Regions from separate parts of the Homo sapiens genome. Here region 1 is linked to region 2. The links come from fine-mapping of genetic effects on gene expression. A gene starts in region 2. The other region holds a variant in brackets. All regions are shown on one strand. Distances are from middle to middle.

Region 1 (4,389 bases), 55 kb before region 2:
AACTTCAGTTGTTCCATGAGAACCTCCAGGATCACTTGGGGAGTGGGGAGACAAGTCCAAGAGTTAATTTCTATTGCTTGTAACCAAAAGAACATTTTCTAAGACACAAGTGCACAGATAACTAAACATAGTTGAGTTGGTGTTCTTCTTAGAGTAAGGATCTGCTGGGAATTCCAAGAAGAGAACTCCCCCTTTCCGTTGGAGATCAGGGGCAGGTGCCTGGAGGAGGTGGTCATATCCTGGGTAGGGTTTGGACTTGTCAAGACAGTGAGAGCATATTCCAGGGTGAGGCAGTCAAAGGGACAATAAGTAAGTCCCCTGTTCTAGAGTTGTACATTCTGGAAGAGAGGGAACCATGATAAGGAAAGCCAGAAAGGTACACCAAGGCCCTGATTGTGAGAAGCCTTCGGTGCCAGATTAGGGGCTGGCCATTCACATTGAGATCCCTGAGAAGATACTGGAGGGTGGGCAGGGCAGGGGAGGTAGGGATGGCTAGGACTGGAAAACAGCCAAATTACAGCACCTGGGACCACCACCTGGCTCAAAGGAAACCTGTGTGCTGGGACTGCTCCCCAAGGAAGAGCTCTGGCATCCTCTGAATGGAGGCACTCACACCCCTTACCTCTGGCCTGGAAAGGAAAGAACCAACCCAACCCCACAGCCATGGTAGAGGTAGGAAAGGAGAACAAGGCCCTGGGAGGCCTGCTCAGATCCACAACTCACATTTTTGTCAAGCCCTCCACCCCAATGCACACAGGAGGTATATACTTAGTTATTGTTTTTAAAGCTATGTAAGAATTAAAAAGAAAGTGAGATTTCAGAAGCTGTAATTAAACTCCTAATCGATTCAGCACTCTGCTAGTAGGAGAATTGGAGTGACAGAACTATTGATTTCTTCAAGCCCTGCGTGTTTGTGCCTACCAGTGTCTGTGTTTGTGGATATGAATCCATCTGGGTGCCTGTCTATATTATCTGGATGCCTGTATCTGTCTGTGTGTCTGTATATCCCTATTTGCGCAAATAGATGACTGTATATGTGTTTACAGGACTTACCTCATATAAACTGGATGATTAAAAACTGGAGGTGGAGGAGCTTGAGCATGGGTACACTTAGTGAATCATTTCCAAAGAAAAGAGTATAGAAAAGGGAGAAATAAAGAAACTTTACAGTGGAGAAACCTGGCAGTCGCTATTTTAACCAAGTGATCAAGTTTAACCTCACCAAGGATAAGGCATGTTGCTAGCATGTACCCCTGAAAGGATATGATAAGAAGTGCACTTCATCTTGTAGCATTCTTCCCCTAGGACACGTAGCCTCAGTCTCATGATGAGGGAAGCGTCAGACAAACCCAAACTGAGGGACATTCTACAAAACACCTGACCAATACTCTTCAAAGTGGTCAAGGTCATCATAAACAAAGGCAGACTGAAAAACTGTCATAGAACAGAGGTGACTAAGGAGACATGAGGACTAAGTGTAATATGATATCCTGGGTGGAATCCTGAAACAGAGAAAGGATATTCATGAAAAAAAAACTAGTGAAATCTGAATACAGTCAGCTTTCCATATCCACAGATTTTGCATATATGGATTCAACCAACTGCAGATTGAAATTATTCAAAAAAACAAAAAATAACAATATGATAATAAAAATGTCACACACAAAAAACACAGTATAACAACTATTTACATAGTATTTACATTGTATTAGGTATTATAAGTAATCTAGAGATGATTTAAAGTATACAAGAGGATAAGTGTAGCTTATATGCAAGTATTAAGCAATTTTATATCAGGGACTGGAGGATTCACACATTTTCGTAACTGTGGGAAGTCCTGGAACCAATCTCTCATGGATGCCAAGGGACAACTGCAATGTCTAGAGTTTAGTTCATAGTAATGGACCAATGCTGGTCCCTTAGTTGTGACAAATGTGCCATGGTAATATAAGACGTCAGCAATCAGGGAAACTGAGTGTGGAGTATATGGGAACACTCTGTACTACCTTTGTAACTTTCTGTAAATCTATAACTATTCGAGACCAGCCTAGCCAACATGGTGAAACCTGTCTCTACTAAAAGTACAAAAAAAAAAAATTAGCTGGGTGTGGTGACACACGCCTGTAATCCCAGCTACTCGGGAGGTTGAGGCAGGAGAATCACTTGAACCTGGGAGGCAGAGGTTGCAGTGAGCAGAGATCATACCACTACACTCCAGCCTGGGTGACAGAGTGAGACTCCATCTAAAAAAACAAACAAACAAACAAACAAACAACAACAACAACAAAAACTGTGAGCCCAGACTAGCTGTCTCTCTGGTTTTATATCATGAGCCTCATGCAGGGAACACCTTGAGAGTCCAAGCTCCAGGATGATAGGTGAAACCTGGCTAAAGAGCCAGGAACAGAGCCTTCCTCAAAGAACTGGGAAGTGGAAAGAAAAGCGGTCACCAGTCAGGCTATGGGTGGAAGTTGTTCTCTCAGGGGAAAGGAACATAGCTACTCCCAGTAGCTTTGTCTTCCAGTCGGG[C/A]CCTCATCATCTGTCCTACAGATGAATCCCAGGTGAGCCTCGTGGACCTGTGCCTTCAATGCCTAGCTACATCGGGAACCCTCCCTCTGAGGCCCCTCATGATGGCTCATAATGACCCTGCTCCTTCCTTAACCACCTTAACAGACAGGCCTTGAGCCACAGCTTCCTTGGGACTGAGTAGCCTATTGTCTACGAGTTTGAGCATAAGGGGGATGTATCCAGACACAAGCAAACAAGGCCTGCACACTGGCATAAGGGTAGGAAGAGCTAGCTCTGCTTCTCATAATCTGTGTGACCTTAGGCAAGCTGCTGCTTCTTTTTTCCATTTTCTGAAATTTTTATCGAAATATAACATATGTACATAGAAGTGAACACATCATAATATTGAGCTACAGTTCAATACATTTTCATAAGGTCAACACATCCATGAATTCAGCAACCAGATAAAGAAACCTAACTATTACCATTGTCCCAGAACTCTCCCTTGAGCCCCTTCTAGTCACTCCCCAACCAGGATAACCAGTATCCTGACTTTTAACAACATAAGTTTGTGTTTTGAGTAAACTTCTTACCAATTTGAGCCTCAATTTCTTCATCCACAAAATAGATAATAATAGAGGTTTCCACACAGGGTTGATGGAAGAATTAAATTAAGTGATGAATGTGTAGGGCCTAGCACACTGCATGGCACAAAAGGGGACACTCAAAAATGTTAGTTCTCTGTGCTGCTCTTCCCCATATAAAACACCTTCACACGTGTCACAATAACTAGAAATATAATAATGACTGGAATTTATTGAGCATATCCCATGCATTGAGCACCATGCTAAGATCATGTCCTTTGCAGGGACATGGATGGATATGGAAGCCATTATCTTCAGCAAACTAACACAGGAACAGAAAACCAAACACTGCATTTTCTCACTTATAAGTGGGAGCTGAACAATGAGAACACATGGACACAGAGAGGGAAACAATACACACTAGGGCCTGTCAGTGGGGTAGTGGGAGGGAGAGCATCAAGATAAATAGCTAATGCATGTGGGGCTTAACACATAGGTAATGTGTTGATAGTTGCAGCAAACCACCATGGCACACGTTTACCTATATAACAAACCTGCACATCCTGCATGTGTATCCCAGCACTTAAAATAAAATGAAATAAAATAATAAAGTAGATGAGCAGAGAGAGGGATGAGGCAGCCTTAACATAGGCAGATGGGGAGGACCATTTGCCCAAGCAACAACTTGGGGCTGCTATGGGCAAAGGAAGATGAAGGGAAACTGTGAGCCCCTGACCCTGCCTACAGCTCGGGAGAGGAGAGTGGGCAAGAATCATGAGCCGCCAAGATATAATTGCTGCTTTCAGGCCAAAGCCACACAGAGCTGTCCAGCTGCAGGAGTTGCCTTTCACGGTAACAGTCCTAGAAATGAGGACAGACAAGGTGCCAGTGGGGAAAAGCAGAATCTGGTTTACTTTAAGAATGAGCTTAAGCCAGGTGTGATGTCTCATGCCTGTAATCCCAACACTTTGGGAGGTGGAGGTGGGAGGATCCCTTGAAACTAGGAGTTTGAGACCAACCTGAGCAACATAGCGATACCCCCATCTCTACAATAATAATTATTATTATTAATAATAATTAGCTGAGCATGGTGGCTCTTCCCTGTGGTCCCAGCTACTCAGGATACTCAAGAGGCTGAGGCAGGAGGATCACTTGAGCCCAGGAGGTCAAGGCTGCAGTGAGCTATTATGGTGCCACTGCACTACAGTCTGGGTGACAAAGTGAGACCCTTTCTCTTAAAAGAAGAGTTTAAAATAACTGTTATTTATAGAGATTGTTTAAACAGCAGCAACTCTTT
Region 2 (4,389 bases):
GAGCAAGACTCCATCAAAGAAGGAAGGAAAGAAGGAAGGAAGGAAGGAAGGAAGGAGGGAGGGAGGGAGGGAGGGAGGGAGGGAGGGAGGGAGGGAGGGGGAGAGAGAGAGAGAGAGAGAGAGAGAGAGAAAGAAAGAAAGAAAGAAAGAAAGAAAGAAAGAAAGAAAGAAAAGAAAGAAAAGAAAAGAAAGGAAGGAAGAAAAAAAGAAAGAATGGAAGGAAGGAAGGAAGGAAAAGAGAGAAAGAGAAGGAAGGAAGAAAGGAAGGGAAGGAAGGAAGCTCAATACCATCTTTCTAACTTCCCAGCTGAAAGAGCACATTTAGTCTGGGTACCTCACTGAAGTATTCAGAAGAGAATAGCCAGGATGGGACAGGTCTAGAAGCTCTACTAAGAAGAATAACACCACCACTCAGCTGGTATTTTAGGGCACCTACTCTTCCAAGCGCTGTATAGTGTGTGCCCAGTGGTCACCAGGGGGAGGAGGTCATGGAGAAGATTCTGTCCAGAAAAAAAGATAACCACTGGAAGAAAGGAAAGGAGCAGAGCAAATGCCATCCCTCCACCAGCCTGTGGGAGGGAGACTCAAAGTAGGGTTGAACGAAACCAAAGAAGAGAAAGAATCAACCCAGCTCAATTCACTGTCCTCCCTGCCAAATGGTTGCCTTGGGACCCAACCCAGAAAGGTCACTGCTTCTCTGCAGCAAGTGTAATCCAGAGTATAAACTACAGCATGGAGCAAATTATATATGCTGAGCTCCATGTCAGATCCCAGCCTGACCTGGCTTGCCTTCCAAAGGCAGTGTTTGGAAGTTTTCACTTCTAAAAGGGCGAACAGTGCTTCTAAGTCCCAGAGCTAAAGGGACAAGATGCTCTCTGGCTGAGCTCCATGGACAGCCTCAGTTTCAGATTCAATGGAACCCCTCAAAGGCACCACATCACCATCTGCCCTGACCCCCACAGCCAAAGTCCCTGACTTAAAATATTCCCCACTGAGGCCAGTTTCTTGGACCCATTGTCAGAGGTATAATATATAGATTAAAAGGGGCAAAAGTGGGAGGAGGCTAGCGGCTGAGGGTGGGGCCACACCAGGGATACATTTGCGCATATGCATTGAACAAAGTGGGTGCATGTTGCATACATGTCGTTGTCCACAGGTATACATGTTGAAAGTGTGAATGGTTGCATGGCTATCCTGAGAAGAGTGTGTGCAAGACTGGTGCACATGGACAGGAATGTGTGTATGCTGAGCATGTAAGCGTGGGTGCACTGCGAGTGTTTGTGGGTGGCCATGGCCATATGGTCCACTCATCCCCTGGCCTCCTGTCTCTTCTCCTGGTTTAAGAGTGGGGTCTCCCAAGCTGTCTCCCTGACCCTGGTCTAGCCAGATGGGGTTAGTCAGAGCCACATTCACTCCAGTGTTGTGTGAGGGCTCTGAGCTTCTGTCCTTCTCCAAGCCCTGAGAAACCAAAGCTGAATGACCCACAGAGAAGACACCCCAGCTGGGACAAGTCAGGTCACCTTAGAAAGCCTGAGTTCAGATAACACTCCCTAGCCCCAATTTCTGCCTTCCTGGGTTCACACTGGCACATCCACTCATCCACATGTGGACTGGCTCAGCCCACCTGGGGGCCTTCCTGCCACACACACAGGCATTTCCACAGGTACAGACACAGTGCACCCAGGGCAGCAGGTGCCACACAGGCAAATACCTGTGGCCCACTCCAGGCCACCACACACTCTGACACACTCGTTCACCCACACTCGCACCCTGGGGCACATGCTAGAAAATTCCACATGTGGACATCCCATCCAGACACACTCCCTCACACTGGCGCAAGCTCCCCTTCACAAGCACTCCCACTGACACACTTACACCTACTATCCAATTAGTGACAAACCTGCACTGTTCCCAACTAGGCTAGCAGAGGCATCACCAGCCCCCTGAATCCAGCTAGGGGAGCTGTCTACTTACTTAGCGTGCGAGACAGGCTGGTAGTGCGAGCGGCCAGTGGTGGCGGGGCGCAGCTGGAGCTCCAGAGGCCGCGCGCAAAGTGGCCGCTCTGCCGGCCCAGCCCGAGAGGCCGCCCCTGGCCCCCGCCCCACCCCCCGCCCCGTTCTCCCCCGCCCGCCCTCTCCGAGGCGGTCGCAGCCTCCCAAGGACCTTCCACAGCAGCGCGCTCCCTGCCAAGCCTTGGTCCCGCGTCAGCCACGGCTGCCTGCTGTCTCCGCGGGACTACGAGGCTATTTCGGTGCCCCTGGGGGGGGAAACATGGCCCTCCCTCCCATCTGCAGGAGCGCTGGAATGGGGACGCGGTCAGGCCTAATTAGAGACCGGGCTCCCCCGGGCCAGGCGGCAGGCACCAGGGTGATCGCCCGGGAGCCGCGAAGCCGTCCAGGCGGGGTCGCCCACAAGGTGCCCCGCATGCCAACATCTGGAGAGGGGAAGGGAATGTGCCGCGATCGTTTCCCTTGGAGCTGAAACAAAACAAGGAGGGATTTGGGTGCAGTTCACTTGCTAGGAAGGAGGAAGCCACCCAGCTTTGATAGACCCCAAACGCCTAGAATGAGACGGTTTATTCACCGCAGGTGCTTCCCTCTGGAACCTTGCTCACACACACCTAAGTCACCCTCCACATCTTGGACCTGCCAAAAATGACGAGGGGTTGTTGCAGAAACTCCTTCTAACTTCGGCACATAAGATCAGACCCCACCCCCCACCCCCCACCCCCGTCCTGGACTCTGTCAAATAGCTAAATCTAGAGGAACTTGATTCCTACCCAAAAGCTCGGGAATGTGGCATTTTTGACCTGGAAGAAAGCTTCCAGATCATTTCATACAACTCCCCCTCCCCCGCCTCCGCCATCTTGCTATGAGGCTCCCAGAGCCCAGAGAATCTTGACCTATTCTTGGAGGTCCTCAAGCAAAGGCAGCCCCTGGTCTCCCTTGAGCCCTGTTCCAAAGCTTGAACTCTCTTACTGACAGAAAGATCTCCTTGACATCTAACCTAAATCTCTCACATGCAAACTATGTCAATTTGCTCACAATATGTATTCAGGGAGAAGGAGCTCAACTCAGTCCCCATGACAAAACGACCACGCCGAGGTCCCACTGCAGCCTTCTCTTCCTTAATGCTAATAATCTCTATTTCTTTTTTCAGGCTCTGGCTGAAGCTAACTGCTGCTCCCTGGACTCGAACACACACAGTAGCTCTCTGATATTAACTCTCCTCCTCAGCTCTCTGGGGGCCCAGGGCTCAGAAGGTGGCCAAATCATTCCTCTCAGACAAGCCAGCTTCAACTCTACCCTCCAGTCATCCAGAACAGCCTGATTCTACTCCCCAAGTTCCCTGAGAGGGGCCTCAGTTCCTGTTTCAACAAGTGCTGTCTAGGGCTGGGGACAGGGCTTGGTGCCGCCTGGCTGGGCATTACCACTGAAACCACAGTCTTACAGACTGTTTGCAGAATCTTCTCTCTGAGTCTGTTTCCGGTAGGGCAGGTGGTATGATAAGAATAGTCTCAGCCGGGAGTGGTGGCTCACGCCTGTAATCCCAGCTCTTTGGGAGGCCAAGGTGGATAGATCACAAAGTCCGGAGATTAAGTCCATCCTGGCCGACATGGTGAAACCCCATCTCTACTAATAATACAAAAATTAACTGGGCGAGTTGTCATGTGCCTGTTACCCCAGCTACTCAGGAGGCTGAGGCAAGAGAATAGCTTGAACCAATGAGTCGGAGGTTGCAGTGAGCCAGTGAGCCAAGATTGTGCCACTGCACATCAGCCTGGCAACAGAGTGAGATTGCATCAAAAAAGAAAGAGAGAGAGAGAGAGACAGAAAGAAAGAAAGAAAGAAAGAAAGAGAGAGAGAGAAAAGAAAGAAAGAGGAAGGAAGGAAGAAAGGAAGGGAGGGAAGAGAGGGAAGGAAAGGAAGGGAAGGAAAGAAGTCTCCAATTCTTCCTCAAAGAAACCTGTTTTGCATCCTGCCTCTACTACTTTCTAGTGATGAGTCCTTGGACAAATCACTTAACCTCTCTGAGCATCAGTTTTCCCATATGTACATTGGGGAACATAAAAATCTCTGCCCAGCTCATGAGGTTGTTGAAAGTATGAAGTGAGGTCAAGGATGTAAAGCACCTGGAAAACTAAGATATTTTATTATATGCTAGAAATAGAATGAGGCTTAGATCATAAACAGATCGATGTTAGCAAAAAAGCCTCAAAGTTCTTTTATTTCCAGGCCCAAACTCTGTGTCTGGGTTTCAGGGTAAGAGAGGAACAGACTTGGTTTGTTAGATGTTCCCTGGAGGCACTTGGCATAAATGCCCCCCCCCCACTTCCCAATACACACACACACACACACACACACACACACACACACACACACACACTCA

What was found. PIP is the estimated chance that this variant, and not a neighbour inherited with it, causes the effect. A credible set is the group of variants that fine-mapping cannot tell apart.
Region 1: its variant is the best candidate, but not a certain one, in a credible set for the expression of INSC in whole blood (INTERVAL, PIP 0.74).

Annotation. Positions count from the first base shown.
Region 1 is chr11:15,167,417-15,171,805 of GRCh38, reverse strand. The region is part of intron 2 of INSC (INSC spindle orientation adaptor protein); the gene reads right to left. Among named protein-coding and RNA genes, the nearest start is that of INSC, 55 kb to the right of the region's middle. The variant C/A (reference allele first, on the strand shown) is at 2,530.
Region 2 is chr11:15,112,589-15,116,977 of GRCh38, reverse strand. INSC (INSC spindle orientation adaptor protein) reads right to left here and starts at 2,055. Exons shown (of 13, transcript NM_001042536.3): 1 at 1,975-2,055. RefSeq lists enhancers at 2,348-2,881, 3,533-3,582.